Linked DNA regions of Homo sapiens. The protein of the gene in region 1 purifies or fractionates together with the protein of each later gene. This does not show direct contact. Each region holds a gene or a part of one and is shown in the gene's direction. Other genes may lie near its edges.

Region 1 (14,735 bases):
TGTTTTTGTTTTTCTTTTGTTTGGTTTTACCCTTATTTCTTTATTTCTTCCTTTCTTCCTCTTTTTCTTTCCTTTCTCTCTCTCTCTCTCCCCCTCCCTCCCTCCCTCTCTCTCTCCCTCCCTCCCTCTCTCTCTCTCTCTCTCTCTCTCTTTCTCTCTTTTTTTTTTTTTGAGATGGAGTCTCGCTCTGTCGCCCAGGCTGGAGTGCAGTCAGTGGTGCAGTCATAACTCAGCCTTGACCTCCTGGGCTCAAGCAGTCCATCTACCTTGGCCTCCCAAAGTGCTGAGATTACAGGCATGAGCCACCGCGCCTGGCCTTTTTCTTTTCTTTCTTTCTTTCTTTCTTTTTTCTTTTTTTTTTTTTTTGAGATAGCGTGTCTTCTGTCCCCCAGGCTGGAGTGCAGTGGTGCAATGATAGGTCACTGCAGCCTTGACCTCCCGGGCTCAAGCAATCCTCCCAGTCTGGCCTCCCAAACTGCTGGGATTATAGGCGTGAGCCACCGTGCCCGGCCTGCCTTTTCCTTTCTCTGTTGCACATAGCCCTGCTCTCTAGGATGGAGGCATTATTTTATTGTAGGAGCTTTGGGCCTGAGCAAGCTGGGTGGACACTCACATGGGCACTTCCAGGCTACTTACCTTGGGCGAGGGCTTCCTCGTTCCCAAGCCCCAGTTTTCCAAGCCACGTAACAGGCATCACAGTCTTTTTCTTTTCTTTTCTTTTCTTTTTTTTTGAGAGGAGTCTCGTTCTGTCGCCCAGGCTGGAGTGCAGTGGCGCAATCTCTGGCTCACTGCAAGCTCCGCCTCCCGGGTTCACGCCATTCTCCTGCCTCAGCCTCCCGAGTAGCTGGGACTACAGGCACCCGCCACCATGCCCGGCTAACTTTTTTTGTACTTTTAGTAGAGACGGGGTTTCACTGTGTTAGCCAGGATGGTCTTGATCTCCTGACCTCGTGATCCACCCGCCTCGGCCTCCCAAAGTGCTGGGATTACAGGTGTGAGCCACTGCGCCCGGCCCAGTCTTTTTCTTATAGGGCCTGGGTGAGGCCTGGGTGGCAGTCTCAGCATAGTCCTAGGTACAGGGTGAGCATCTGATAGATGTCACGTCTGAATGAAACGGGCGAGATCAGCGTCGCTCTGGGTGGGCCAGTGCTCCTCGGAGGCCCTGAGGGCACAACCGCAGGGATGGGTGTAGGCTGTGGGTACCACTGAGAATGGGGGGCAGGCCCAGGGCTGAGACCCAGGTTCTCCAACTTCCCACTGTGTTTGTCTTGTGCCATATTCATCCTCTATGAATGGCTGTGGCTGCTCGCCCAAGCCAGGAGCTCGTGCGTCCGATGACCATCTTCCAAGGCTGGATTGCTACCTGCTCGCTCGGGGCTCTGCTGGATGGGAACAGCAGCTCCAGCTTCTCCGGGTCCCGGGCTACCGCTGCCTCTGCACCTGGCCCTGGCCTCGGATCCGAGAGCCCAGAGACATTGGCATTGAGACCCTGGCACCTCTCGTCTTGCCAGCACAGGTAGAAGACAGGAGCAGAGCGGTCCAGGGACCTGGGAGTGGGAGGTCAGCCACTCTCAGCCCTTCCTCCCCACCCTGGGTGACATTCTGCTTCCACTGTGGCGCCTCGGGGAGGCTGGTGCAGCCGCCCCCGGGTGCCACTGAGAAACGAGGTCATACACTGAGGCCACTGGGGAAGGTGGTATTTCTGGCCGAGCAGGTGTGGCCTGTGCAGGGTTCCTGGCAGCTGAGCCCTAGGTCTTCTCAGCCATCCTGGCATTAGCAGGTTGACTTGATATTTCTGGAAGTGGGAAGGAAAGGGAGCCGAGAGGGCTGAGCCGCTGAGCCGGAGTCCAGATGAATGTGCCGGAGTCTCTGCATTTGTGATGGGGGCGAGGTGATGGGGGCGAGGTGGCCGGCGTGGCTCTGGGCATGATCGGGCCAGGCCTCCGACCTCTATGCTGGGCATTGGCTGGACAGGGAGCTCAGGCGATGAGTGCAGCAGCGCTTGTGCCCGGCGCGGGGATGGTGAGTGCCTGGCTGGCCAGCTGCAGGACCTGTCAGGCCCTTTGTGTCTTTACCTGGGGCCCTGGTTGCACTGACCAGGGCTCGCACCCCCAGCCAGGCCTCTTGTGCCCCAGACTCGGGAGATGCTTCCTACCAGGAAGTGCAGTCCCCTGCGGGGTCCGAGAGAGCCTGCCGGAGCTTTGAGCTCAACAGGTGGGCTGTGCGGCACCACATCAGCTCTGCAAGGGGGCCCTGGAGGCCCATGTGTGGTGGGGTATGGCCTGGCTTTCAACATGCACGCGTGGTCTTCTGGGCTCTGGGATTTACTGCTTAGATCTTGGCCTCTTCATCTGTGAAACGGAGCTAATGGCTCCTGCTCCCTCCGGCTGCTGCAGGAGAGATGTCTGGGAAGCTGTGGCAGTTCCAGCCCCGGGCAGGGAACGTGAAATAACTGTTGGTCGCTGTTCTCACTCATCACCATTAGGCAGGTCACGTCCTAGGACACACAGAAGTTTCAGGTTCATAAGCCATGGGAGATGAGGCCGGCCCAGAATCCAAGCTTCCCGCTCTGGCCCGGGTCTGCCCCTCTTCTGGGGCTGAGAGGGCAGGCAGGTGCCTTGCTGGGTCCTGTGGTGTGGACTCTGCCGCCAGCAAGGCCATTGAACCTGCTTGTTTACAGCCGGGAGAGGACTGGGAAGCACCAGTCTTGGCTTGTTTGTGAAGCTGGGGAAGCCGAAGCTCCAGAGGCCTTCTGTGCATGGCTGTGTGTGCCAGGCCTTCAGGCTGCGCCTCCAGGGGATGAGCAGGAATTGCAGGCTCAGCTCTTCCAGCCTTGGCTCAGGTGGTGCCTGCTCCTCCCTCCTTCCCTGTACCTCTCATCCCCACACCCACTCCACTCTCAGGCCACACCCACTCTTCACCTCCACATCTGTCCAGAATTTCACTGCTTGTCTCTGCCTTGTGCTTTTTTTTTTTGAGATGGAGTTTCACTCTGTCACCAGGTTGGAGTGCAGTGGCCTGACCTCTGCTCACTGCAACCTCCGCCTCCTGGGTTCAATCGATTCTCTTGCCTCAGCCTCCTGAGTAGCTGGGACTACAGGCGTGTGCCACCATGCCCAGCTAATTTTTGTATTTTTAGTAGAGATGGGGTTTCACCATGTTAGCCTGGCTGGTCTTGATCTCTTGACCTTGTGATCTGCCCACGTCCGCCTCCCAGAGTGCTGGGATTACAGGCGTGAGCCACTGCGCCTGGCCTTGTTTTTTTTTTTTTGAGACAGGGTCTTGCTTTGTCCCCCAGGCAGGGGTGCCGTAGTGTAATCAATCATGGCTCACTGCAGCCTGGAACTCCTAGGCTTAAGCGATCCTTCTGTCACAGCCCCTGAGGAGTAGGTAGGACCATAGGTGCGAGTCACCACACCCAGCTAATTTTTTATTTTTGTTTTTTGAGATGGAGTCTTGCTCTGTGGCCCAGGCTGGAGTGCAGTGGTGTGATCTCGGCTCACTGCAACCTCTGCCTCCTGGGTTCAAGCGATTCTCCTGCCTCAGCCTCCTGAGTAGCTGGGATTACAGGTGCCCACTGCCATGCCCAGCAAATTTTTTTGTATTTTTATTTATTCTTTTTTTTTTTTTTTTTTTTTTTTTTAGACAGAGCCTCACTCTATTGCCCAGGCTGGAGTGCAGTGGTGCAATCTTGGCTCACCACAACCTCCATCTCCTGGGTTTAAGTGATTCTTGTGCCTCAGCCTCCCAAGTGGCTGGGATTACAGGTGTGTGCCACCACACTTGGCTAATTTTTGTGTTTTTACACGGGGTTTTACCATGTTGGCCAGGCTGGTCTCGAACTCCTGACCTCAGGTGATCTGCCCACCTCAGCCTCCCAAAGTGCTTGGATTACAGGTGTGAGTCACCATGCGTGGACACAGCTAATTTTTATAAATACTTTTTGTGGAGGCAGAGCCTTGCTATTTTGCCCAAGCTGGTCTTGAACTCCTGGGCTTAAGTGATCATCCTGTCTCAGCCTCCTAAAGTGCTGGGATTCCAGGCGTGAGCCACTGCGCCCAGCCCACTTTTCACCTCTCTATAGCTCCCTCTTTGCTCCCAGCTTCTGCCCTCACTCCTCCAGTCTGTTCCACCCAGCAGTGGCAAGCAGGTAAAGCTGGGGAAGCCAAGTCTTGAACCTGAGCCAAGTCTCATCCCTCCTCTGCTCAAGAACCCTCTATGGCTGCCACTTCACTCAGAGTAAAAGCTAACGTCCTCCCCGTGGCCCACAAAGCCGTGGCACAGACCGCCACATCACCTTTCTGCCCTCACCTCCTCCCACTCTCTCCCTGACTCACTCTGCTCAGGCCACACAGGACTCCTTCCTGCTCAGCCACGCTAGGTATGGTCCAGCCTCAGGGCCTTGGCACTTACTGTTCCCTCTGCCTGGACTGCACTGGTTCCCCCACTGTCTACTGGCCTTTGTTCACACGCCACTTTCTCAGAAAGGGCTTCTCTGACCACTCTCAAATGGCCATCCTCTTGGAGGTTGCAGTGAGCCGAGATCGCGCCACTGCATTCCAGCCTGGGCGACAGCGAGACTCTCTCAAAAAAAAAACAAAAACAAAAAAAACCACATTGTGACCTCCCCCACAACCTTCTAGTTTTGTTCACAACTCTTGGTGACAAAACATGCTATGGCTATCTGCCCCCACCCCCTGCTTGCCCAGCACGCACAGGCTAGAATTCAGGTCCCATGAACCCCAGAGGCTGGCTTGGTTTTTTTCACTGCCATATCCCAGGAACTGGAACAGTGCCTGGGGTATGGGAAGGAGGGAGTCAGGAATGAATGAATGGATAAATGAATGCAGGCTCCCTGAGCTCTCTTGGCTGGTGGCAGGGCCAGGGTTAAGGTCCCATTCTGCACCAGAGCTGTCTCCGTCCCTGACATCGGCTTTGGGACTGTTCCTGAGCCGGCTGCTGCGGGTGCCCTTCCAGCAGGCGGGAGTAAGTCTGTGCGGCCACAAGGGGGCAGTGGGGAGCGTCGCAGCCTCCGCCGCTTGCAGCCAGTCATCCCGGTGGTGACGGGTCAGCTCGGCCTCTGCACCGAAAGTATCTCGCTATTGTTAGGGTTTGGGTTCACTGTGACCAGCTGGGCGAGGCATCAGTGCACCAGCTCTCTGGCCCTGGCTTCCTGTGGATGGGCCCCTTCAAGAGCATGGTCAGCGTCCCAGGAGAAGGGGCCTGTGGATCCTGCCAGGGTTTGGCCCCCTTGTGCACCTGGCATGGCTGTTCTGCTAGTGTTGGTCTAATCTTATTTATTTATTTATTTATTTATTTATTTATTTATTTATTTTGAGACAGGGTCTTGCTGTGTCGCCCAGGCTGGAGTGCAATGGCATAAACTCAGCTCACTGCAACCTCCACCGTCCTGAGTTCAAGCAATTCTCCTGACTCAACCTCCTGAGTAGCTGGGATTACAGGCACACACCACCATGCCTGGCTAATTTTTGTATTTTTATTAGAGACGGGGTTTCACCATGTTGGGCAGGCTGGTCTCGAACTCCTGGCCTCAGGTGATCTGCCTGCTTCGGCCTCCCAAAGTGCTGGGATTACAGGTGTGAGCCATAGTGCCCCGCCTAATCATATTTATTCTTTTTTTAAATTTTGAGATGGAGTCTTGCTCTGTCTCCCAGGCTGGAGTGCAGTGGTGCGATATCAGCTCACTGCAACCTCCTCCTCCTGGGTTCAAGCAATTCTCCTGCCACAGCCTCCTGAGTAGCTGGGATTACAGGCATGCACCACCACGCCTGGCTAATTTTTGTATCTTTGGTAGAGACGGGGTTTCGCCATGTTGTCCAGGCTGGTCTTGAACTCCTGACCTCAGGTAACCCGCCCACCTTGGCCTCCCAAAGTGCTAGGATTACAGGCATGAGCCACCGTGCCCGGTCATCATATTTATTCTTTTTTTTTGAGATGGAGTCTTGCTCTGTCGCCCAGGCTGGAGTGCAGTGGCGCGATCTCGGTTCACTGCAAGCTCTGCCTCCCGGGTTCGCGCCATTCTCCTGCCTCAGCCTCCCGAGTAGCTGGGACTACAGGCACCCACCACCGCACCCGGCTAATTTTTTGTATTTTTAGTAGAGATGGGGTTTCACCGTGTTAGCCAGGATGGTCTCGATCTCCTGACCTCGTGATTCGCCCGCCTCGGCCTCCCAAAGTGCTGGCATTACAGGCGTGAGCCACCACGCCCGGCCTATATTTATCCTTAATAAGATTTATCCTAAACTGGGGATGATTACGGTAACCCTGTCAGATGGCAGCTGGGGACAGCCCACTTTGCCATGAGTAGATGGAAGTTCAGAGAGGTTGGGTAACTTGCCCAGGGCCACACAGCCAGGAAATGGGCAGGTCTGCTTCTCTGGGTTGTTCACCCACCAGGCGGGCGGGTTCCCAGGAGCTGTGACAAGTGCTTAGACAACGAGAGCCCCCCTTTTCACTCCTCCTGCCCCCATTAGTAATATCTTCATGACCACAAAGACAGTGAAGACGGGCTCTGTTGCTTGCGGCACTCCCCTCTGGGCTTGGGAGGCACAAACCTCGCCCCTGCTCCCTCTTGCAGGGTGCGCTTCACGCCGCACCGTGTGTCCTGGCTCTTGGCTCTGCCCTGACCTCGTGCTGCGACGAGTTGCTGTTGGCTGGGCCCCGGGAATCTTGGGCCTCCTGGTGAGAATTCCTCTCAGGCTAGTGGAACTGTCATCACAGAGCCACAGGCCGGCAGAGCCACCAGCCTGTGCCCCAGGCCAGAGTGCCTGCCTGTCTGCCCGTTCCTGCCCTCTCCCTGCCCGTCGTGCCTGAGGCTATGTGGTCTCACCCCTTGCCCGTGGCCAGTGCTGGGACCTCGCTGACACCAGTAGCCCCCCTCCCACAGGTATCCCTTCATCCACCCAGAGCATCTCAGCCCCTCCCAGCCCCTCCGAGTGGCTCCGTGGGCTTCCTCAGAAGGTCCTGTCTGTCCTCCCTGCCTCACCGCTTCTCCTGGAGATGGGGCCAGAGCCTGCCACCTCCCCGTCTGTGCTCAGGATCCCCTGCCTGGGGCTCTGTTCAGCAGCTGCCTGTACCCTCTGCAGCCCTGGGCTTCCCCTGGGAGCCCCTGCCCCCTGTTGGCCTCAGGCCTGGGCAGGCGTGTGTGTGTGTGGCAGGCACAGAGCAGAGATTGGGGTGGCAGTGGGGTGTGGGGCGCGGAGCCCTCGATGAGGTCTCACATTAGGCCCTCCCTCTGAGGGGTGGGGAACCTCTCCTGCTCCTCCCACCCGACTGTTTTTATTTTGATGGGTATGTGGGGCCTGTTTGTTACCCCTCACCCCTTTAAACAATAATTTATTGAGGTGAAATTCATGTAACATGAAACTAACCATTTAAAAGTGAACAGTGGCATTGAGTGCACGTGCATCATTGTGCAGCCTCCACCTCTGTCTCGTCCCAGAACATTTTCCTCACTCTGAAAGGAGACCGGGTACCCAGCAGCAGCCACTCCCCATTCCCCCCGCCCAGCCCCTGGCCCCTCCAATTTGCTTTTCTGTCTGTCTGCTCTGGGTATTTTGCATAGATATGGGACCTTTGTGTCTGGCTTGTTTCCTAGCGTAACTTATTTCTTTTACCCCACCTGGAATATCTTATTTAACTTTCTTACTTAGAAATAATTATAGGCCGGGCCAGGTGGCTCACGCCTATAATCCTAGCACTTTGGGAGGCCGAGGTGGTGGATTGCCTGAGCTCAGGAGTTCGAGACCAGCCTGGGCAACATGGTGAAACCCCATCTCTCCTAAAATACAAAAAATTAGCTGGATGTGGTGGTGTGTGCCTGTAATCCCAGCTACTCTGGAGGCTGAGGCAGGAGAATCGTTTGAACCTGGGGGGCGGAGGTTGCAGTGAGTCAAGATCGCACTGCTGCACTCCAACCTGGGCGACAGAGTGAGACTCTGTCTCAAAAAAAAAAAAAAATTATAGAGACACAGGGAATTGCAAGAATAGTATGGAGAGGTCTCCTGCTCCCCCCAGAGCCTTTCAGTCCTCTCTCTAGGAGGAGATGGCCGACGAGCTGGGGATTTGGGGCAGGAAATGGGAGACGGACGGCCGTCCCACTGAGGACTCATCCTGCCCAGGTGGCCCTAGCCTTGGGCATTTCTTGTCTGTAGGGGCCCCTAGGTGCTGCCTTGCAGCCCGGGCTTACCTCCTTGCAGGTTTGGGCGTCTCCTCTCCTTGGGCCTCAGGCTGGCCTGGGCACCACTGCTGCAGCTGTGAGCGTGGCCCCTCTCTCGCTACCCCCTCCTGCCGCAGCCCGGCGTCCTCTCCCAGCAGCTAGCCGGGACCCCGATGGCCGTACTCTCCCTCTTGGGCCCTGGTTTGGTGCCCAGGTTGGGGGGAGCAGGGTACGATTTCACCCCTCCCACTAGCAGCTGGCTGGACAGGGAGAGGGGCTGGTTGTATTTTAAGCTGTTGAGTGGTTCAGCAGGAACTCGGAGGCCTTCTCTCCCTGTGGACGCTAGGCTGCCTTCCTACAGGCCACACGGGCTTGGAAGCATGTGGGCACTGCCTGCCTGGGGCCCAGGAACTATTAATATACCTGCAGCCACAGGGCAGGCCCCGTGCCCGCCCAGGGCCCTGCTGTGCTAACCCTTTCCCGTGGATCCCGCCCCGTGTCCTCTGTCCCTATCCTACATATCCCCTTGGTGGGGCCCAACGTCCTGCGTGGTGTGACCGAGCTCTTTTTTTCTGGCCCCTCCATGTGCCAGCTCTTTGGCCTTGTTATCGCTGTGGCTTGGAGGAGTTCAGTAACCTTCCCCTAGAGGCCACAAGGCCAGGCAGTGCCTGGAGTTGACAGCAGGGACTCAGGAGGCCCCGTGGGCCAGGATTTCCTGGCTGCTGGGCCCATTCCCACCCTCCTGTCCAGGAAGTGGGGGCGAGTGTGTCATGGCTGGGGAAATAGGCCCCCATGCTGTGGTGACTGCCAGGCCAGCAGGGGAGTGGGGATCTGAACCAAACCCACGGGCAACAATGCCTCCTATCCCATGGGGTGCCTCCCATCTGTCAGGGGTCACCTAGTGTACCCCATGCATTGTCTCAGGGGACCGTCACAGTCCTGGGAGGTAGTCTGCTTCCTACCTGCCCCCTTCTGAGGCCTAGAGAGAGGTGACATGCCTGGGGTCCCCCAGGGACTACAAGGCAGGGCTGGTTACGGTTCCCGAGTGCAGGCCACCAAGCCCCCTTGTCTCCCGCTGTCGTTGGGAATGTGCAGGAGGGGTACCCAGCTTCTCTGGCTTGACCGTGGTGCCCTCATCTTCAGGATGGGCCCTAGCTGCCGTGGCCCGGTCTCCCTGGGCTCTGGGTGGGTGGGCCTGCCCTGGGATGGCCCCAGCCCAGAGGTTTGTTTCTGAGCATTGTGTCCTGCTCCTTTTCCTCAGGCAGCCTCTGGGGGCCCCCGCTGGGTTTCTGTGGGTAGGAAGGGTCCCCCAAGAATTGCTGGCTGGTGGCTGACTTGGGATCAGGCCTGCCTGCTTGCCACGACCCCTGTATAATAGGATTGCACTGACCCCTGCATAGGGTGGGTCAGATCCCCGGGGGCTGCCTCCCTCCAGCCCTGCCCCTCTGCACCCCCATCGTTCATCACTGGCCTGGGGGCTCAGGGAGGGCTGGGCCAGACTCCTACCTCAGGGGCTGGCACAGGCCTGGCTCTTGGACGCAGGAAGCGCCGGGCTTTAGTGGGGCGCAGGTCCTGGGTGAGGGTGCAGTGTTTGGGCTGACTCAGTGGAAAGCCTGCCCCACAGGTGGCTATAAGGTGAGAAGTGGGTGGGGAGGAAGGTTGGGGAGACCTCATCAGCCCAAGCTGGAGGCGGTTGCCTAAAACTTCCACACACCCCGATCCTTTCCACACTTCGAGAGAGGCTCTCTGCACCCATAACTCCAGAATCTGTCACCTCCCTGGTAACACAAATGCACAAGGAAAATAATCCAAAGTGTCTCTTACAGCTCAGAAGGGGAAATGGATGATCTGTCTCGCGGATTCTCAAAATAGCTGGGATTTCTCCAAGCCCAGTGAACTCCCTAGGCCTGAGCTGCGGGCTGGGGCCTGCACGGCCCGCTGGCCTCTCACTCTCCTCTAGCCACTGGCTCTGTGCAGGGCGGGGGCTGGGAGGTGTTGTCATGCCTGCCCCTGGGGCTTTCCCTGTGCTGGTGCCGTTGAGGGTTTTGAGGTGACCACTCAAAAGCTGCTTTCAGGGCAGCCTGGCTCCCCGGGGAGACTCCCAAGCCCCCCTCAGAGAAGGTCTGTGGCATGGCTCCTGGGGGGCGCAGTCTGGGGTGGTTTTATATTTAGCTGGGCTGTGGCTGTGGTTGCCACTCGGGTTACATCTGGCACAGAAGTCGGCAGTGCCAGGGCCGGCACGGGCTCCTTTCCAGCACCGCGGCAGAATTTGATCGCGCTTGCCCGGCCCAGGGCTGCTTCCCGTGGGGAGGTCGGTGGTGGGGGCTGACGGCCGGCAGCTGGGGCTGCTGGCCACCGTGGGCAGAGCCGAGTGGCAGGGCTGGTGGCAGGCGGCATGGACTTGAACTTGAGCTTGTTGGCCCGGGAGGCCACCCCAGGCCTCCTCCCTGGCCTCAATGGGCTCCCCAGGCCCACACCCCCAAAGGTGGCCAAGAAACCTAAAAAGGCTGTTCTCTTCTTCGAGGTGGAGATTCTGGACGCAAAGACAAGGGAGAAGCTGTGTTTCTTGGACAAGGTAGGACTGGGGCGTGGGCTGCACTGGGCCAAGGGCACTGGGCCCGGGACCCCAATCCTTATAGCCCAGGAGCTGTCCAGTGGGGCCCTTTGTGCCCCACCCCCTGCCCTATGGAGGGGTATGCCCTCACTTGGGGTAGGGTGGATAGCCATGTCCCCTGGGTGTGGCGGGGAAATGGAGGCACAGGAGTCTCAGTGGACCCTGCGGGGATTTTGGTCCTGGGAGGGCGGTGGAGGAGTGAGCCTTGCCCCTGCTGAGGCCGGGCCTGGGGGAAGGGGCTTGCGCTGTCCCTGGGGAGGACAGAGGGCCTTTGCTCCTGGGAGAGTCATGGGTGAGAAGTGGAGAGGAGGGGCAGAGAAGCAGGCTTGCCTTCCCATGCTTAATCCGCCACTAGCCGGGCTGGGGGCCTGCTGGCTGAGGGTAAAAGTGGAGCCCCAGACCCCTGCTGTCACTGCACTGGCAGGGCCCTCGGTGGTCCTTCCCTGACTGCAGGCAGAGGCCTGGACCCCAGCCCTTCCCCCTTCCCATAGCTACAGCCCAACCCCCAGCCTGCCATCCCCTTTAGTACCTCCCCATCCTGAGTCTGGGCTCCCCGCAGAGCTGACGTCCCTGCGCCTGTGCTTCCCCCAGGTGGAGCCCCACGCCACCATTGCGGAGATCAAGAACCTCTTCACTAAGACCCGTGAGTTCTAGTCCCGGCCACACTGCCCCTGCAACCCCTTTGACCAGGGACCTTAGGGTGGGAGGGATCCCATCCTGCACCCCTCTCCCAGGGGCCTGCAGAGATGCCCCAGTGTGGCCCAGGCTTCTGGGGCGTGACTGGGGCAGGCGCCTCCACGTGGCACTCCGCAGGAACGCCCTTGCTAGGCTCTGGGAAGGACAAGATCCTGCTTCTGCCCGCGCTCTTCTGGCTTGTGTCCTGAAACCGCACAAGCCTGAGGGTTTGCCCCCAGGTGGGAGGAGCTGTGGAGTCCTGGGGTCCTTGCACCCTGGGAACCCTGAGAAGCTGGCACAGTGGCTGGGCAGCGGACCGGCTGAGCCCTGCCAGGCTGTGGGCTGTAACTGCCCTGTTCTCCCCGCAGATCCGCAGTGGTACCCCGCCCGCCAGTCCCTCCGCCTGGACCCCAGTGAGTACAGCTGTCCACTCGGCCCGCCCCCTGGGCTCCTGGGTGGCAGTGGGAGAAGGCCCGGGTAGCCCCTGAGCCCTGGCCCGCCTCTCTGCAGAGGGCAAGTCCCTGAAGGATGAGGATGTTCTGCAGAAGCTGCCCGTGGGCACCACGGCCACACTGTACTTCCGGGACCTGGGGGCCCAGATCAGCTGGGTGACGGTGAGTCCTGACCCTACCCACGGCCTCTTTTCCCGTCAGCCACGTTGGGTGACTCATCTTGCCCCCCTCTACTCTCAGGTCTTCCTAACAGAGTACGCGGGGCCCCTTTTCATCTACCTGCTCTTCTACTTCCGAGTGCCCTTCATCTATGGCCACAAATATGACTTTACGTCCAGTCGGCATACAGTGGTGCAGTAAGTGGGGCAGGTGGGAGGAGGGTAGGGGAAGGCAGAAGACCTGCCGGACCAGCCCCAGCTGAGCCTGCTCCCCCCGACCAGCCTCGCCTGCATCTGTCACTCATTCCACTACATCAAGCGCCTGCTGGAGACGCTCTTCGTGCACCGCTTCTCCCATGGCACTATGCCTTTGCGCAACATCTTCAAGGTGAGAGCCCGTCCCCGCCTCACCCCTAAGCCCCGCCTTTCTGCCCCACCCCGCCCCGCCCCCACCGAGCCCCACCCCAAGGCCCTTCCTGTCTGCCACTACGCCCCAGCAGAGCCCTACCCCTAGGCCCCGCCTAACCTCCCCAGCCCCGCCCTCGCAGAGCCTCTAGACCCCGCCCGTCCTCCCCAGCCCCGCCCCCGTCGGGCCCCTAGGCCTGCCTATCCACCCTAGTCCCACCCCTAGGCACCGCCTATCCCCCCAGCCCCGCCCCTGCAGAGCCCCGCCCCAGTTTCACCCCTAGGCCCCTCCTGTCCACCACGCCCTCACAGAGCCCTGCCCTAGCCTCACCCCTTGGCCCCGCCTATCCTCCCCAGCCCCGCCCCAAGGCCCCTCCTGTCCTTTCCCACCATGCTCCCAGGCCCCTCGGGATGAGACATGGGCAGCATCTGCCTTGTCCGGTGCTGGCCCAAGTCCCATCCCTGCCCTGCTCCCTTTCAGAACTGCACCTACTACTGGGGCTTCGCCGCGTGGATGGCCTATTACATCAATCACCCTCTCTACACTCCCCCTAGTAAGTGGCCTCAGACCATCCTTCCCTCCCCCACGGTCCCCACCCAGCGGGTCCTCCCCTCATGGGCTCCCCTCCCTGCTTCCTCTTCAGCCTACGGAGCTCAGCAGGTGAAACTGGCGCTCGCCATCTTTGTGGTAAGGAGGCTGGGTGTGGGGACGGGGTCGGGGGAGTCTGGGCGGCCCTAGGCTGATCCTGCTTCTCTGACAGATCTGCCAGCTCGGCAACTTCTCCATCCACATGGCCCTGCGGGACCTGCGGCCCGCTGGTGAGTGCCTGCTGGGGGCAGGGGGACAGCTGGGCTGGGTGAGGGGGTCTGACTTTCTCCTTCTGTCCTGCCTGCCAGGGTCCAAGACGCGGAAGATCCCATACCCCACCAAGAACCCCTTCACGTGGCTCTTCCTGCTGGTGTCCTGCCCCAACTACACCTACGAGGTGAGGGGCTGCCTTACCCCTCTCTGCCCTGGGACTTGGGGTCCCATGTGGAGGGACCAGCCCCTAGGATGGGGCGCCTGGCTGGGCAGCTGCTTTTGCCGCCTGCACTGCGAGCATTGGGAGGTGGAGACCGCGGCCTCTCTGCTGTGGTGGCGGGGAGGCGTGTGCCGCTGGGCTTCCGCCGTATACAGCCCCGCCTCCGCTGGAATTGGGTTCCCATCCCTGACTCAGAAAGCAGGGGCGGCGGGAGGTGGCTGGCTGAGTCCAGGACAGCCACATACACGGGTTGCGAGGCTGCCCACGCTCACTCTCCGCCCCTGCCCACAGGTGGGGTCCTGGATCGGTTTCGCCATCATGACGCAGTGTCTCCCAGGTGAGCCTGCCGCCCTCCCTCGGCGGGGCCCTGCCCCTCCGGGCCGGCAGCCCCTCCCTGACGCCCGTTCTTTCCTGCAGTGGCCCTGTTCTCCCTGGTGGGCTTCACCCAGATGACCATCTGGGCCAAGGGCAAGCACCGCAGCTACCTGAAGGAGTTCCGGGACTACCCGCCCCTGCGCATGCCCATCATCCCCTTCCTGCTCTGAGCGCTCACCCCTGCTGAGGCTCAGCCCCTCAACCCGGTGGCATTCTGGGGGAGGAGTGGGGCCCACAGCTCTCCAGCACCCGGAATAAAGCCCGCCTGCCCCAGTCGGACTCGGGCTCTGTGTGTTTCTTTCCGGGGTTGGGGACCACCACACTGCCCTTCACTCTCTCCCCACTCTCGCGTCGGAGCAGTAAGAGGGGACTCTGGTTGAGGGGCCTGAAGGCTTTTATTTGACTGGTCCATAGGGTGGGGGGTGCACCCCCTACAGGGCCACCTTGGGGTCCACTTCCCCGGGTCCCTGGCCTTTGGCCAACTCTGCCGCCTTCTTCTCCCGCCGCTTCTTCCGCTGGAGCAGCCTCCGCTCCCGCTCAAACTCCTTCATGCGCATCACATAGCTGGGGGAAAAGCACGAGAGGGGCTGTCAGGGTCCCTGGCCAGGACACGCCCCCCAAGCCCTGGGAAGCGGAGGGGCCGTCCCAGAGCACTGTGGGGGAGGCCTCTGAAGAAGACATGTCCGAGTGCCTGTGGCTTGGGTCTGGGGTCTGCCCACGCAGGTGGCAGGGCTTCCCACTGGAACCTGGGCTTGGCCACTCCCCTAGGTGGCTTCAGCCACCTGCCCTGTCCCCATCAAACAGGCCCCTAGAGAGCCCTCTCTGGGACTAAGGTGGGGCCCGGCTAGAAACCTC
Region 2 (16,581 bases), on another chromosome or scaffold:
AGCTGGGATTACAGGCTTGTGCCACCACACCCAGCTAATTTTTGTATTTTTTAGTAGAGACGGGGTTTCGCCATGTTGGCCAGACTGGTCTCAAACTCCTGACTTCAGGTAATCCGCCAATTTTGGCCTCCCAGAGTGTTGGGATTACAGGCATGAGCCATCGCACCTGGCCCCTTTCACACGGTTTTAAACTGGTTTGTTTACCATGGCACTAATTCCTTTCTTTAAGCGAAAGTATTCTGAGTAAGATTGATGGAACAATTATTAGATCTGCTGATGCAATAAAGAAAACCAGTTAATGTGCAATATTGGTATGTCAAGATTTCACTATGATATTTTTAATCATATATTATTGAGTGGAGAAAGAAAGTTGTTGAATTATTTTTGCATAATCACAGCTTTTACTTCTAAAAAAGTATATATGTATATGTTGTGTATATTATATAGCTTCATACTTAGAAATGTCAGTGAAAAGAAAAAGAAATGGAAGAATACAGTACAAATTGCCAACTGTTAGTGGGAATAGAAAATGGGGTGGGATGCTTTTTCATTTCATATAATTCCGTGTGCTTTTGAAACTAAAAAATAAGTAAAATGTTAAAACTATATTTTCTAATCACTTGTTTCAAAATGACTGATTTCAGCTTTATTTGGGAAATATGTTTACAGAAGACTATGAATGTGAGTCTAAGTTCTGTTATAAAATAGGTGGCAGAGTAGAAAGAGCCCTTCTTATTTTTTATTTTTTATTTTTTTTAGAGACCGAGTCTCGCTCTGTCGCCCAGGCTGGAGTGCAGTGGCATGATCTCGGCTCACTGAAAGCTCTGCCTCCCGGGTTCACGCCATTCTCCTGCCTCAGCCTCCCAAGTAGCTGGGACTACAGGCGCCCGCCACCACGCCCGGCTAATTTTTTTGTGTTTTTAGTAGAGGCGGGATTTCACCGTGTTAGCCAGGATGGTGTCAATCTCCTGACCTCATGATCCGCCTGCCTCGGCCTCCCAAAGTGCTGGGATTACAGGCGTGAGCCACCGCTCCCGGCCTAGCCCTTCATTTTTAGTGAAGACATCTTGGTTCTAGAAACAGGCCTGCTGCACTAAAGTAGTCCGTATGCAAGAAGGTTAACTTAAAGAGTTAATTTCCCTGTTGGAAAAATGGGGGTGTTATTGTGATGTTTGAATGGGGTAATGTATGTGAAGTGACTTTGAAGTTGATATTGCAATATTAAAGCATAATAGGTGTTTTTGTTTGTTTGTTTTTAAGATAAAGTCTCACTCTGTTGCCCAGGTTAGAGTGCAGTGGTGCGATCTTGGCTCACTGCAACCTCCACCTCCTGGGTTCAAGAGAGCCTCAGTCCCCTGAGTAGCTGGGATTACAGGCGCCTGCCACCACACCCGGCTCATTTTTGTGTTTTTAGTAGAGATGGGGTTTCACCATGTTGGCCAGACTGGTCACAAACTCCTGACCTCAGGTGATCCGCCTGCCTCGGCCTCCCAAAGTGCTAGGATTACAGGCGTGAGTCGCCGCACCCTGGCCAATAAATGTTAATCTTCCTTTCTTATGGTAATATTTCTTGTTAAATAAATTAAATATTAACTTTGGGAAACCTCCCAATTTCTAATGCTTAAGACTCAGTTTCTTTTAAATTGGTTTGTTCATCACAACACTTTTTCTTTTTAACCCAGGATTGGACAACTGAATTTAAAGGCAAGTTAAAGTTCAATATTTTGAACAATGTTTAAATCAAGATGAGCGAGAAGACAGAACTGTTAAAAGGTTTTATTTTACAGCCAAGTGAAGGATTCAGCTATGTCCCAAAGGATTAAACAAGATGGTATGCTTAATAATTCCTCGCTTCTATGAAACTCCCTGATTATGAAGTGTACTTTCATTCTATAGAACTACTCCTGATTTCATCAGGAAACTCTGATCTGAAACTCAATTTACAGAAATATTAAAAATGAATTTTCGACTAAATGGGAATATTTGTATACTAATATGATACAATATTGTTGCTTCATTTTTTTCATATTAAATACTATTCTAAACTCTAAATTTGTTAATAAATGAAGCAGAAATCTAATGTGATTACATCTGAGTATTTTATTTGTGTAATAACAAAATATTTCTAGAGACTCTTCTACTCTCCTTTAGTCTTTTTCTTTTCTTTTCTTTTCTTTTCTTTTCTTTTTTTTTTTTTTTTTTGAGACAGGGTCTCACTTTGTTACCCAGGCTGGAGTTCAATGGCGCAATCTCAGCTCACTGCATCCTCCGCCTCCCAGGCTCAAGCAATTATCCTGCCTAGCCTCCCAAGTAGCTAGGACTACAGGCATGCACCACCAAGCCCAGCTAGTTTTGTTTGTTTGTTTGTTTGTTTGTTTGTTTGTTTGTATTTTTTGTAGAGACAGGGTTTCGCTATATTGCCCAGGCTGATTTCGAACTCCTGAGCTCAAGGGATCTACCCAAAGTGCTGGGATTATAGGCATGAGCCACGGCACCCAGCCTTTAGTCATTTTTTAGATGCTGCTTTCTCTGAGCTAGTTCTGGAGATATGATTTCATAGTCACACCTTTTTGGTTCAAATTCCAATTCTTCCACTTACTAGCTTTAAGCTTCTGTTTCCTCATTCATAAAATGGGGTTAAGAGTAGTACCTACCTCACTGAACACTTAATATCTATCTGCCAATCACTGCTAAATGCTTAAGTAGTATTGTTCTCATTTTACAGATGTGGAATTTGAATGCATAATAATTAAATCTATACAAGATCATACAGCTAATAAGAGGCAGAATCAGGATCTGGTTCCAGATTTACCTGACACTAAAGGCCAGAGTTTTATCGTATTGCCTCTTCTTCGGAGAGCTATTAGTCACATGTTTGGTTAGTATGGCTCTACTAACCCTTCATTAGATGTTAAATTTCAGCACAGAATACTGCTGAATAGGAGTGGGTCATCATTATAGGGTCCTGTATGCATTAGAGTTTACTGTGGTTCGTAAAATTTATTCAGCGACAAAGGATTGTTGAATTCCAAAAGTGTGTGACCACCTGAACTCCAAAGGGCTATCTGGCATGTACTGCTTCACTTTGTGGAAGTCGCCATTTTTTCCCTTAGTAGATAAAACAATTAGTATTCCTAATTCCTAAAAAGAGGCTGAGGTGATCAGAATAAATGTGTACATTTTAAATAACGATTATTCTATTAATTGCATGGGTAGTGCCTAGGCATTTTAGAAGAGGAATGCATACCAAAATGAGATGGTTTCAGTCTTTAACATTCCTTTTCATTAAAATAACTAAATTCCAACAGCAATGGAAATTCCATTTCCAAAGTACATGTGTTTATTTTAAATAGCCCTACACCAACAATTATTGCCTATTTAATTTTATGCCATATGCTGTGATAGTTGCAAGAGGCACAGATGTGTATTCTTCAAAACCACATCAAAGCCTTCATTCCGGTGTTGATTGCTTTCTCCTCTACCACACCCTCACTCAATTTCTGCATTTTCTCAGATCCCAGTTCAAATATGGGTTCCTTAGAAAGGCGTTTCAAGGCTGTTTCTTTTCCCCCACCTAAATTAGGTCCTCTTGTTAACCTCTTTCCTTATGTCCTATTATTTTCTTCTTTGTACGTATTACAATTTTTATCATATAATTAGTTGGAAGTTTGCTGAATGTCTGTCTCTCCCACTAGACAATCTATTTTCATTTATTCCTTCATCACCCATTCAACAGGTATTTATTGCATACCAAGTGTCAGGTACTCTTGGGTGCACATCTTAGCTAAAGATACAGTGGTGAACAAGAAAAGTTCACTGTACTAATGAACTTACATTCATTCTATTAGGTAGATGGACAAAGACCTAGTAATCAAACAATTTGAAAGCATTATGTTCTGTAAGGAAAACAAAGTAAGATAAAAGGATAAGGATTGCTAGAGCAGAGGATAAAGCTATTTGGGAAAGTTATGAAGGGAGGTCAGGGAATACCATTCTAAGGGGGATGACATGTGAACAAAAGCCTAAATAATACAAAGGAGTGAGCCTTGGGAAGATAGTAAGAGGTTCCAGGCAGAGGGAAGTGGAAGTGTAATAGAACGACTCTGAGACCAGAATGAAATTGACTTATTTGAGGAACTGCAAGGAGTTAGTGTGGCTGGAATCAAGTGAGCACAGGAGAGGGTGGTCCGTGTTGCCGGAGAGGTCAGGGCAGACAAACTCAACTTGGAGGATTTTGTTCTTAATGTGATATAAAGTCCTTGAAGGGATTTGAGTAGAAGAAAATGATATCTAATTTACTTAAAAAAAAAAAAACCCTCTAGTTGCTACATGGACAACAAACTCCAACACAGGCTTTAGGGAGACCAGTTAGGAGGCTATTGCCATATTCCAGGCTAAAAATGCTTGTGATTTGAATTAGGTTAGTAGTGGCCAGTCAAGATATATTTTGGAAGTAGAGTGAATAAGACCTGCTAAAGAATTGGATATGGAATGTAATGGAAAGAAAAGAATCAAGGTTCAGGCCTGGCATGTTGGCTCATGCCTGTAATCCTAGCACTTTCGGAGGCCCAGGCAGGCGGATAATTTGAGGTAAGGAGTTTGAGACCAGCCTGGCCAACATGGTGAAACCCTGTCTCTACTAAAAATACAAAAATTAGCTGGGCATAATGGCGGGCACCTGTAACCCCAGCTAATTGGGAGGCTGAGGAAGGAGAATCACTTGAACCTGGGAGGCGGAGGTTGTAGTCAACTGAGATTGCGCCATTGCACTCCAGACTGGGCGGTAAGAGCGGGAAAAAAAAGAAAAGAAAGAGTTAACATTCATCCCTAAGTCTTGGGCCTTAGAAAGGGGGTAAATGATGGTATCATTAATAGAAATAGGAATGAAAAGAGGAAGAGGGTGTGTGTGTGTGTGTGTGTGTGTGTGTATGTGTTAAGCGTAGAGTTCTATTCTAAACATGTTAAGTTTGAAATGTTTATTTTATATCTGAGTAGAGATGCGAATAGGCAGGTGGATATATATACTGTATAGAAGTCTGGACCTCTAAGCAGAAGTTGAGCCTGGACAGAGACATTTGGAAATAATCAGCTTACAGCTGATATTTAAAACCAAGGGACTGGATAAAATCATATATTAGAGACGTAAAGAGAGCTGGGGTCTGAGCCTGAGGGCACTGTGTAATTTAGAGGCCAGTAAGAGAAGGGGCCAGCAAAGGACACTGAGAGGAAAGCAGTGGCCACTCCCTGTTGAATGGTAGAGTAGGGTTAGGACTGAGAATTGCCCATTTGCTCACTATTTTATACCTAGTACCTAGCTCAGTGGACTGGCACATAATTAGAACACAATAATATTTGTTGAATGAATGAATCTTCACTTCTGTTTATTTCTTAGATATTTGTTGGGGTACCCTAGGTACCAGGCACTGTTTTAGGTCCTATGGATTCACAGCATAGTGTTCCCTATAATCATAGATTCTAGTGGGGGCCACAGACAGACATATGCAACAAAAAATATGTATTGTTAGTTTATAATAACTGTCTTCTCCCCCTTCCACCCTATTCTAAGGAGAATGGGACTGAATATCTAGAGGGTGCCTTGTTGGTGAGCAATGATGAGCTGGGATATATAAATTTGGGGATATAGCTATACTGTAGGCAAAGATTTGGGGAAGAGGGAGAAGTTGAGGACGAAGAGTGGTGGGCCTTTAGTTGAACTGAAGAGGCAGCCCCAGCCAAAGGTACCAAATTCAATTAAAATAAAATATGATGTCAGCTCGACTCACATGGCTGAATTCTGCAGGGTAATTGATGGTTTACATTTACAGCCTTAGGGTTAGACCTAATTAATCTGATAAGAGAATGGAGAAGGGGGGGTTTGGGCAGCAAGAAATAAGGCTCAAATTGAATCTTATCAAACTATGAAGTTAGCTGCAAGGTATGTTGAACTGTTACCCTTAGAATTATTATCCTTAAGTTCTTGCTTTACAAAAAACACTCAAGTCTTGAATCAGCAGCCCCTACTGGCTAAGAACAAATTTTAGGTACCTTTCTGAGCCCAAATCCATGCCAGAGAAGGAAACAAAAACTCTTGAAGGAAGGTAGAGAGTAAGTGTGAAGCACTTTATTGTTTTACACAATTTTTTTAAATTATACTTTAAGTTCTAGGGTACATGTCCACAATGTGCAGGTTTGTTACATATGTATACATGTGCCATGTTGGTGTGCTGCACCCACTAACTCGTCATTTACATTAGGTTTATCTCCTAATGCTATTCCTCCCCACCCCCCCACCACCCCATGACAGGCCCCAGTGTGTGATGTTCCCTTTCCTGTGTCCAAGTGTTCTCATTGTTCAATTCCCACCTATGAGTGAGAACATGTGGTGTTGGGTTTTTGTCCTTGCGATAGTTTGCTGAGAATGATGGTTTCCAGCTTCATCCATGTCCCTACAAAGGACATGAACTCATCCTTTTATATGGCTGTATAGTATTCCATGGTGTATATGTGCCACTTTTTGTTAATCCAGTCTATCATTGTTGGACATTCGGGTTGGTTCCAAATGTGAATAGTGCTGCAATAAACATACGCGTGCATGTGTCTTTATAGCAGCATGATTTATAATCCTTTGGGTATATACCCAGTAATGGGAAGGTTGGGTCAAATGGTATTTCTGGTTCTAGATCCTTGAGGAATCACCACACTGTCTTTCACAATGGTTGAACTAGTTTACAGTCCCACCAACAGTGTAAAAGTGTTCTTATTTCTCCACATCCTCTCCAGAACCTGTTGTTGCCTGACTTTTTAATGATTGCCATTCTAACTGGTATGAGATGGTATCTCATTGTGGTTTTGATTTGCGTTTCTCTGATGGCCAGTGATGATGAGCATTTTTTCATGTGTCTGTTGCCTGCATAAATGTCTTCTTTTGAGAAGTATCTGTTCATATCTTTTGCCCACTTGTTGATGGGGTTGTTTGTTTTTTTCTTGTAAATTTGTTTGAGTTCTTTGTAGATTCTGGATATTAGCCCTTTGTAAGATGAGTAGATTGCAAAAATTTTCTCCCATTCTGTAGGTTGCCTGTTCACTCTGATGGTAGTTTCTTTTGCTGTGCAGAAGCTCTTTAGTTTAATTAGATCCCATTTGTCAATTTTGGCTTTTGTTGCCATTGCTTTTGGTGCTTTAGACATGAAGTCCTTGCCCATGCCTATGTCCTGAATGGTATTGCCTAGGTTTTCTTCTAGGGTTTTTTATAGTTTTAGGTCTAACATGTAAGTCTTTAATCCATCTTGAATTAATTTTTGTATAAGGTGTAAGGAAGGGATCCAGTTTCAGCTTCCTACATATGGCTAGCCAGTTTTCCCAGCACCATTTATTAAATAGGAAATCCTTTCCCCATTTCTTGTTTTTGCCAGGTTCATCAAAGATCAGATAGTTGTAGATGTGTGGTGTTATTTCTGAGGGCTCTGTTCTGTTCCATTGGTTTATATCTCTGTTTTGGTGCCAGTACCATGCTGTTTTGATTACTGTAGCCTTGTAGTATAGTTTGAAGTCAGGTAGTGTGATGCCTCCAGCTTTGTTCTTTTGGCTTAGGATTGACTTGGCAATGCGGGCTCTTTTTTGGTTCCATATGAACTTTAAAGTAGTTGTTTCCAATTCTGTGAAGAAAGTCATTGGTAGCTTGATGGGGATGGCATTGAATCTATACATTACCTTGGGCAGTATGGCCATTTTCACGATATTGATTCTTCCTATCCATGAGCATGGAACGTTCTTCCATTTGTTTGTGTCCTCTTTTATTTCGTTGAGCAGTGGTTTGTAGTTCTCCTTGAAGAGGTCCTTCACATCCCTTGTAAGTTGGATTCCTAGGTATTTTATTTTCTTTGAAGCAATTGTGAAGGGGAGTTCAGTCATGATTTGGCTCTCTGTTTGTCTGTTATTGGTGTATAAGAATGCCTGTGATTTTTGCACATTGAGTTACAAGACAGGGATGCCCTCTCTCACCACTCCTATTCAACATAGTGTTGGAAGTTCTGGCCAGGGCAATCAGGCAGGAGAAAGAAATAAAGAGTATTCAGTTAGGAAAAGAGGCAGTCAAATTGTCCCTGTTTGCAGATGACATAATTGTATATTTAGAAAACCCCATCGTCTCAGCCCAAAATCTCCTTAAGTTTTACACAATTTTTTAAACTTACCTTGTGATCTTTCTCCTCTGCAACTTTGCTAACGTAGTTCCCATGCCTCTATCTGGACTTCACACTTCTGTGCCCCCTGGAAATACCACTCCCCCACTCCCCAACCAAAAAAGGGAAATTTAAAAAAGAAAGTAAAATTTTCTATCCCCCTTTGAAGACAAATTAAAAGATATAGTCTCCTTCCAAAACTAATTGTTCAGCAAGCTGTGTTCCTATATTTTTCATTCACCATACAGCTCTGATGCCATCGTCTAACAGTTATTAGACTCCATCAGGTTATTTGCCTTGAACCCCAAATCGTTGGGAACTAAGTGATGTTTAGTGCTCAGCTGGGAGGGAGGTCTGGCATTTAAGGGCTCTCTATGAGTGAGTGTAACCCGGGCGAATGCCTGCAGCGAGGAAGGCACAGACACAGAAGACTGCAAGCCTTTATCTGGAAAAGTTTATGGCAACAATGACAGCACGCTTAACAATGATATATTTATTATATAATTATATCATATATGTAAAATATATATTTATTTAATAAAGAGTTGAAAATAAAACTGTGGCTCCACACCTATTTCTTTTCTTTTTTTTTTTGTTTTTGTTTTGGGATGGAGTCTCACTCCGTCGCTCAGGCTGGAATGCAGTGGCGCGATCTCGGCTCACTGCAACCTCTGCCTCCCGGGTTCGTGATTCTCCTGCCTCAGCCTCCCGAGTAGCTGAGATTACAGGCGCACGCCACCACGCCCGGCTAATTTTTGTATTTTTAGTAGAGACGGGGTTCGGATGTTGGCCAGGCTGGTCTCGGACTCCTAAGCTCAAGCGATTCGCCCGCCTCGGCCTCCCAAAGTGCTGGGATTACAGGTGTTAGCCACCGCGCCCTGCCTACGCCCACTTCTTACTATAATCTTTCCATTCACTAGCGGCTTCTCTGATCCCATTTCCTCTTCGAACCTGAGCTCAAACCAGCCTGGGTCTGACCGGCCAATCCGAGCGCAGTCTTCCGCAGTCGCGAGTACGGCTGCAGCCAATGAGAGACCGGGGCGCCTCGGTGGGGTGAGACAGGGCGCTCACTGGCGGAACCCCGGGGGACGCGGTGATGGGAGGAGTGTGGGAGGGGCAGTGGAACTGGAGTCAGCTAATGGCTGACGCACTACGCGCAGAGGGAAAGACGGGTCACCAATAGCGACACGGATATGGCCCCGCGGGCGGGGTTTAGGCCCAAAGTGGTGTCGGAGCAGCGCCTATTAGTGTCATCCTCACCGTCACGGCCGGCGCCTCCTCCTGGATTCATTCACTCGCTCTTTTCATTCACGAAGGTAGTGAGGCCTAGTGGAAAGCCATGGAGAGCGCTCTCCCCGCCGCCGGCTTCCTGTACTGGGTCGGCGCGGGCACCGTGGCCTACCTAGCCCTGCGTATTTCGTACTCGCTCTTCACGGCCCTCCGGGTCTGGGGAGTGGGGAATGAGGCGGGGGTCGGCCCGGGGCTCGGAGAATGGGCAGGTGAGTCGGATGCAGCGCCGCGTCCTCGCTCCCGCGGCGGCCCGGACCAGGCCTGGGCCGTGATGACTAGTTCTGGGGTCTGCTCCTGGCCTTCCCCTCCCCAGCTCTCCTCTTTCTCAGGCTCCTGTGCCCCGCGGGCCCCTCCTGGCTCCCTTGGCTGTCTTCTGCTTGCTTAGACTACTTGCAGAGTTTTAAGGTACGAAATACACTGCTCGCTCAATCCTGGGAATCTAAGCTCAGCTTAGGGTGTAGGAGAAAACTGCCTTAAGTCTCTGGGGCTTGTGCCCTTTAAGCCATTCCGTGTTCATGGAGCCAGTCAGTCGCCCTGCTGCCTCCTCAGTCACACGCTGTCCTCCTTGGTTCGCCCCTTGTAAGTGTTTTTAAAATAAAGTTTTTCGCTCGGTTTGAATATTGGCCCTGTGCTAAGGATGCAGAGCATTCTGTTAACATGTTTGGGCAGAGGATGGAAAGGGGTGTAGGGACACAATTTCAGAAGGCTTTTTGCACTGCGGAATCGTACCTCCCCAGTTACGATTAAGATAGTAATCGTATCTGGATTTGGCCTATTTCATACAATTACAAAGCCCCTTTAAAAGGAATTCTCGCTAAACTGTTCTGGAGTCCTAACGAGTAGCAAGAACTATTGCTTCTGTAAAATGATAACTCATCATGTTAAAATCAGATTTTTTTTTTTTTTTCACAAGGACGTTTGTAGGAAAAAGTATACCCGTAAAGAGTGAACCAAACACATGGAACTTGTAGTCGGAGGATTTTTAAAATGGAGGACGAAGGTCAGGTTGAGGAAATAGGGAAAATTATCTGCAGGGAAGTTTTGCTCCCCCCCCCCTTTTTTTTTTCTTTTTCAACCTATTTTGTTTCCTTCTTTGCTTTATTTTTCGTCTCTTGGCCTTTTTTCCCTTTAAACCGAGTGATTACTTATGATATGCTTGTGGTCCTACCCTGAGATGATTATTTATTTTGATGTTTTATAATCGAATGTGCACTTCCTAAGCATTTTATTGAATTTTGGGGTGGTTAGGCATTGCCTGCAGACTGGGCTCAGGTAAGATACACTAATAATGTTACTCCATGTTCTTTGTTTATTTAGAAACATTTAAACAACCTAGTAGGAAAGACATATGTTAACCTTTTGGGTTTATGTTAACATTAAGAGAAAACATCTTAGCAGTGGATATGTATGTGAAATCTTTGGACGATGTGGAGCAACATTATAATTCTGTTTCACAGTCACCTGTTTCTCTGAAAAAGGAAGTGAAATGTTCAGCTGGGTGTGATGGCTCACGCCTGTAATCCCAGCATTTTGGGAGGCCGAGGCGAGTGGATCACAAGGTCAGGAGTTTGAGACCAGCCTGACCAACACGGTGAAACCCCGTCTGTACTAAAAATACAAAAATTAGCTGGGCGTGGTGGCGCGCCCCTGTAGTCCCAGAGGCTGAGGCAAGAGAATCGCTTGAACCCAGGAGGCGGAGTTTGCAGTGAGCCGAGATCATGCCACTGCACTCCATCCAGCCTGGGTGACAGAGCGAGACTCATCTCAAAAAAAAAAAAAAAAAAAAAACAGAAAGTGAAGTATTCAACTTGGTTATAATTAAGATTATGATTTCCCAATTGACTTGCCCACATTCTTCATTGTTAGTTTTGGAAAACCTGTTTGAAGACTTTTGACTACAAAAGACTACAAGATTTTTATACAAGATAAAAATTAGGGAATTGTATCAAGATAAAATTTGTAATTGGTAAGCAAAGACTAATGTTAATAACTTGTTGTTTTCTTTTCTTTTCTTTTTTTTTTTGAGACAGGGTCTCACTTTGTCACCCAGGCTGGAGGGCAGTGGTGTGGTGGTGTGATCATAGCCAACTGCAGCCTCGAACTCTTGGGTTCAAGTGATCCTCCCATGTGAGCCTCCTGAGTAGCTGGGACTACAGGTGTGCATCACCACACCAGCTCATTTTTTTTGTTTTTTGTAGAGACAAGGCCTCACTCTGTTTCAGAGGCTGGTCTGGAAGACCTGAGATCAAGCAATCCTCCTGCTTCAGCCTCCCAAAGTGCTGGGATTACATGTGTGAGCCACCATGCCTGGATGTGTTTTTTTTTGTTTTTTTTTTTTTTTCTCTTTAAAATTGACCATATTGGTTGATTATTCAAATGATAAGTCCAAGTCATCTACATATGAGTGTACAGTAAAAGGCAAGTGATGTAACACCATAAGTAACATTTGTGTTGAAAAGATTTGGCCCCAGAGGAAGGATAATTGATAAATTAAGGGAAGTATTTGTGTAAGATTTAGATATGAAATTTGAACTGGAACACTGGAACAGCAGAGGATCATAGTATCATAATTGAAGTGAAATGCTGACAGGTTCAATTTACCCTGGGTTTTGGATTTTTTTTTTTTAAATGCTTAAGCAGAAGAAGTGATCTTAAAAGAAAATACTCCCTTTATCTTCAAATTCTGGGACTCTTCAAAAACAAAATTAAGAGCAGCTCATCTTAAACAGGTTCTTCACATGAGTTGGAGGGGTGAACTGAAATAATTTGAAAAACAAACTAGCAGAGATGACACTTGAATAATTAGAGTTGTGATTAAAAATATTGTTCCACCAAAGTTATGATTTTAGAATTGTTGTATGTAAATAGTACTAGTAAGTTTTTTCCCTACGAAATTACTATCTTAATCTCAAGAGTCTCTGTTCTTATGCAGCCTTTGAATCTACTTTCTAGTACTAATATTTAATATTTTCCTCTTTAAAACCAATTATATATTTTAAGTATTTTATTAGTATATGTTGAATTGATACTATATTTTTATTCTTGTTATTCTTAGTCTCTTCATGTGAGTATCTTCATGTGAGTATGTTTAATCTGTCTGCCTCAGATTTTAGGATCTGAGGGGCAGAAAGCGTGGATTCTCACTTTTTGTCTTTTCTCACAAATTGGCTCTTCTAAATTTAAGAACAAAAACTTTGAAAAACTTGAAATACAGGTATGCTTCACAATCAGTAAAATATTCTAGATAACAGTTTCCTTAGTGTTGTTAGGCTTTCAAGACTGTCCATTACTTGGCTGGCCCACACTCTAATTTATCTCCATCTCCTGGTCAAGAGCTGGGCCATCTCTTTCTCCTAGTTCTCACCAGTAACATTCCCACTCAGGTGAATCCCCTGTGTTCCCTATACCCCTAGAAGGTGGGTTTAGCCAATTTAGTAAGTAAGACTTCTTTGTCATTGTTACCCGAATACTTCCTGTATTTCTTAGGAGAACAAAAGGAGATCCTGTGAATGTGGAGTTTCAGGTGTTTGAAGGTCAGTGTAGCAAGTAATCAAAAAAAGATTGATAACAAAGGTGGTCAGTTTGTATTAAATAAAGGAAAGAACAGTCACTGCTATAGAGCAATAAAAAATGTGATCTGTAGAATGTGGTTTGACCATAAATACATTTTGCAAGTATTTGAGTAGTTTCCATTGCTGGAGTTCATCTAAAATGATTGCTATTGAAATAAAGTGGAGATGATAGATGCAAAGGCAAGGTAAGTAGACTTCCAATGTCAAGATATTTTATAACTTTAAACATAAGACAGCACTCTGAGCACTTATTTTTAGTTTTTAATGAAGAGGATATTGTTACACGCAGTGAAGAATAAATGATCCACTAATCAGTTAGTGAGTTAGATTTTTTAAAACAACTTTAGTGGGATATAATTAATATACCATACAATTTGCCCATTTAAAGTGTACAATTCAAGGTTTTTACTTATGTTCACAGGGTTGTGCAACCATCATCAAATCTAATTTCAGAACATTTTCATCTTCCTTAAAAGAAATGCTGTACCCATTAGGCCCTTCACTCCCTGACCCCCACCCGCTCCAGCCCTAGTCAACTACCAATCTACTTTCTGTCTACGTAGGTTTGCCTGTTCTGGATATTTCATATAAATGGAATCATACAATAGGTGTTCTTTTTTGTTAGTGGCTCTTTGATTTTTGCATAATGTTTTCAAGTTTCATCTATGAAATCTGTACTTCATTTTGTTTGTATTGCTGAATAATATTCTGTTTTGTGGAGTGAGGTCAGATTTCACAAAAAAAGTCTTCAACCCTTTGTTCTACCCTCTGGATGTTTACATTAGCAAATCTCTAAGATGTAGCTTCTGGTTGCTGATGGAACTCGTTTGGCTTTGCAGTATTCCAAGGTTCTCCTAATTCAGTAGATAGTGAGGACTTAAAAATGGCATGGAATGGTGTGGTTCTCCTCTGGAAAAACCATTCATGAAAACATGCATCAAAGGATTCTCAAAATCACAGGTATAATCACAATTTCTGTTTTCACATTGGTTAACTGCACAGGGTTAACCTCAAATGACTGAAGAATACTTGTGTAACTAGAGCTTATTAATAGTAGGTGTCTTTCTTTAACAAGAGTTTGTGATATCACATGATTTGAAGAATTATATATGAAATGTTAGTTATTTAAATTGACAACCCAGAAGAAATATTAATAACTATCATTTATTGAATGGGTGCTTGAAATGTGCCAGGAACTTGAGATTATTTTTAACCTCTTTGAGCTGTGCTCCGTTGTCCCCAGTGGACAGAGGAAGAATCAGAGGGTTTAGTAAATTGCTTTCATTATCTATGGTTTCATAGCTATTAAATTGCAGAGTCAGGATTTGAAACCAAGTCATCCGTTCTGCAACATTCGTACACTGTATGTTGGTGATGGGCCTACAGACTGGATGAGTACTCGGGAGTAGATTTCTTTATACCTACAAACTTTATTAAAAGCTTTTTGATTGAAGACACACTTTCACTTTTTAAAATTTAAATTTTTGTTTTATTTTTAAGAACAATCTCAGACCAAAAAAAGGCACAGTTTCAAATTTGCACATTCATGATTTTTCTGGAAGGATTGCAGAATAGTTGGCACATTTTGGGATCAAGTAGCTTGGGATTTTCTTCAGATTTGCAACCATAAATCTTGTCGTATGAGAAAATACTGGAAAGTTACTAAGGTGCTTAACAAAGCAAAGGGTTTGACAGTCATCAGAATGGTGGGATTTGACTTCGAATGCTATTTTCTGTTTATCGCTCTGGCATTCTTGAATGGATTTAGTGACTCCCTGGAGGTCCAGCTTGGTAAATGTCATATGCTTGCTGTTGACATTCTAGTATTGGGGTATAGATACCTGTTCTTACTGGCGAGCCAATGTTGATCGCAGTAGTCATTACATGGGTTATGTTTTTCGCAGAGGCAGGGAAGGTGAGGGAAGGCAGAGAAACAAACTTAGTCATAAATGTTTTTGAATATTTGTTTATTCTGCCCTTTGGCTCCCGAAAGGGAGTACGTGTGCCTAAATGGAAAAAGTTCTGCAGATTAAAGTTGGCAGGGCAACTTTCAAGTACTAGTGCTGGAGTCTACATAAGAGGAAACAGATGCAACTGAAGATTGGACCTAAAAGCATACCTTTATTTGATTTGGAGGAAAAACCAAAGAGGGAGGTTTCCTGGGATTACAGATCCTGAGTTTACATTCCCTGAATATCTTTTTCCCTCACTCCCCTCCCGACTAGCCCCCATTGCTCCCACCCTGTTTTTTTTTTTTTTTTTCCTGTTCTTTCTTTCTGTGCAACACTAACTTTCCTATTTAGAGGTCAAACTTGAACTTGGAGACCCAAACCTAGACTTGAATTCTAGCTTCCCTACAGATTTCATAGGCTTATTGTGAAGGGTAAATGAGAATACTTATTCTCTGTAAAACAGATAGTACATAAGTGCTTGATAACTTGTTATTATTATAGTATTATTAGCCTTAGTAGCACTGTGCTCTGATTACCTGAGCTAATTGCCAGGGTAGGGTTTAGAAGAAAGAGTTGATATCTGGGTGACTACATTGTCAGATAACTGAGATTACCATTGCTACTTGCAACTGAGAGTGTTGAGCTTTAAAACTAATTTTTTGTTGTTGTTGGTTTTGGTTGGTTGAATTGAGGATAATTTATTTCTTTCAGTTTCAGAAAAATTTGTCAGATTTACATAACAAAATTTATAAGTTTAGAATGCATGGGTAAACGGATTTGAATAGATCAGTTTCAGTGCCATTAAAAGCTATTTGTAGATAAGGATAAGTTAAATGTATATTTTAAAAACAGTGCATCCTTTATTTCATTTCCCTTCTTGTCACTCTTAGCAAAACAACATGTAGCAATTCATATGCATGTCATCTGGGATGGATTGAGATTAAGGTTAGGGAGGCAGGGTGAGCAAAGCCCTCACTGGGCTTGGTGGAGAGTATGACATAACACTATTCATTTGCCCATTTATCCACCACAAATACTGTTGAGTGCTAACTATAGACCTTATAATAGTCCAATGGGATGACAAACAGTAACAAAATGAATAAACTGTGCTATGGTAAGTGGTGAGAACAGGAAGTATTTGGTCCTATGAGAATTTGTGAGGGAAAGTTCTAGAGCTGTGCTGGGGAAGCAGTGCCTCAGCTGAGATCTGGCGGTTGAGTGTAAGTGAGCAAGCTGGAGTGACAGGAAGGGCAGAGGGAAGAATGTTCTTGGCAGAAGGAAAAGCAGTTGCTAAATTCCTAGGGCAGGAAAGGGCAGGGCCCTCATGAAACGAGGGCTGAGTGACGAGCCAGGAAAGCTCAGATATGAGTGCCATGGAACTGGAGAGGCAAGAAGGGCAATGAGCAGGGCCTTCAGCCTTTATCCTGGAGCAGTGGAAAGCAGTTGAGGTGATTTTAAGCAGAAGGGTAACACTGTTGTGTTTGCAACTGTAAGCCGAATTTCTTGTTTCTATGACTTCCCTAGAGTTATTGCCGGCCCTCTTTGGGAAAACATTGTTACACAGAGATAGATCAGTCTAGGTATTCA

What was found.
Region 2: the proteins of TECR (region 1) and HSD17B12 purify together in Homo sapiens (co-immunoprecipitation; 2 studies listed by BioGRID and IntAct, with this or other methods). This does not show direct contact.

What each region holds. Positions count from the first base shown.
Region 1 is NC_000019.10:14,551,822-14,566,556, forward strand, and holds the end of TECR (very-long-chain enoyl-CoA reductase), read left to right. Parts: intron 1-8,209; exon of another isoform or gene 8,210-8,570; intron 8,571-10,703; coding exon 10,704-10,754; intron 10,755-11,319; exon of another isoform or gene 11,320-11,352; coding exon of another isoform or gene 11,353-11,384; coding exon 11,385-11,436; intron 11,437-11,836; coding exon 11,837-11,881; intron 11,882-11,978; coding exon 11,979-12,082; intron 12,083-12,160; coding exon 12,161-12,276; intron 12,277-12,360; coding exon 12,361-12,466; intron 12,467-12,964; coding exon 12,965-13,037; intron 13,038-13,127; coding exon 13,128-13,171; intron 13,172-13,244; coding exon 13,245-13,302; intron 13,303-13,380; coding exon 13,381-13,469; intron 13,470-13,796; coding exon 13,797-13,842; intron 13,843-13,922; coding exon 13,923-14,050; 3' UTR 14,051-14,159; downstream 14,160-14,735. Other genes in the region: NDUFB7 (NADH dehydrogenase [ubiquinone] 1 beta subcomplex subunit 7), read right to left, coding at 14,312-14,444. UniProt on the Homo sapiens protein: Involved in both the production of very long-chain fatty acids for sphingolipid synthesis and the degradation of the sphingosine moiety in sphingolipids through the sphingosine 1-phosphate metabolic pathway.
Region 2 is NC_000011.10:43,671,309-43,687,889, forward strand, and holds the start of HSD17B12 (very-long-chain 3-oxoacyl-CoA reductase), read left to right. Parts: upstream 1-9,429; 5' UTR 9,430-9,519; coding exon 9,520-9,679; intron 9,680-9,794; exon of another isoform or gene 9,795-9,985; coding exon of another isoform or gene 9,986-10,049; intron 10,050-16,581. UniProt on the Homo sapiens protein: Catalyzes the second of the four reactions of the long-chain fatty acids elongation cycle. This endoplasmic reticulum-bound enzymatic process, allows the addition of two carbons to the chain of long- and very long-chain fatty acids/VLCFAs per cycle.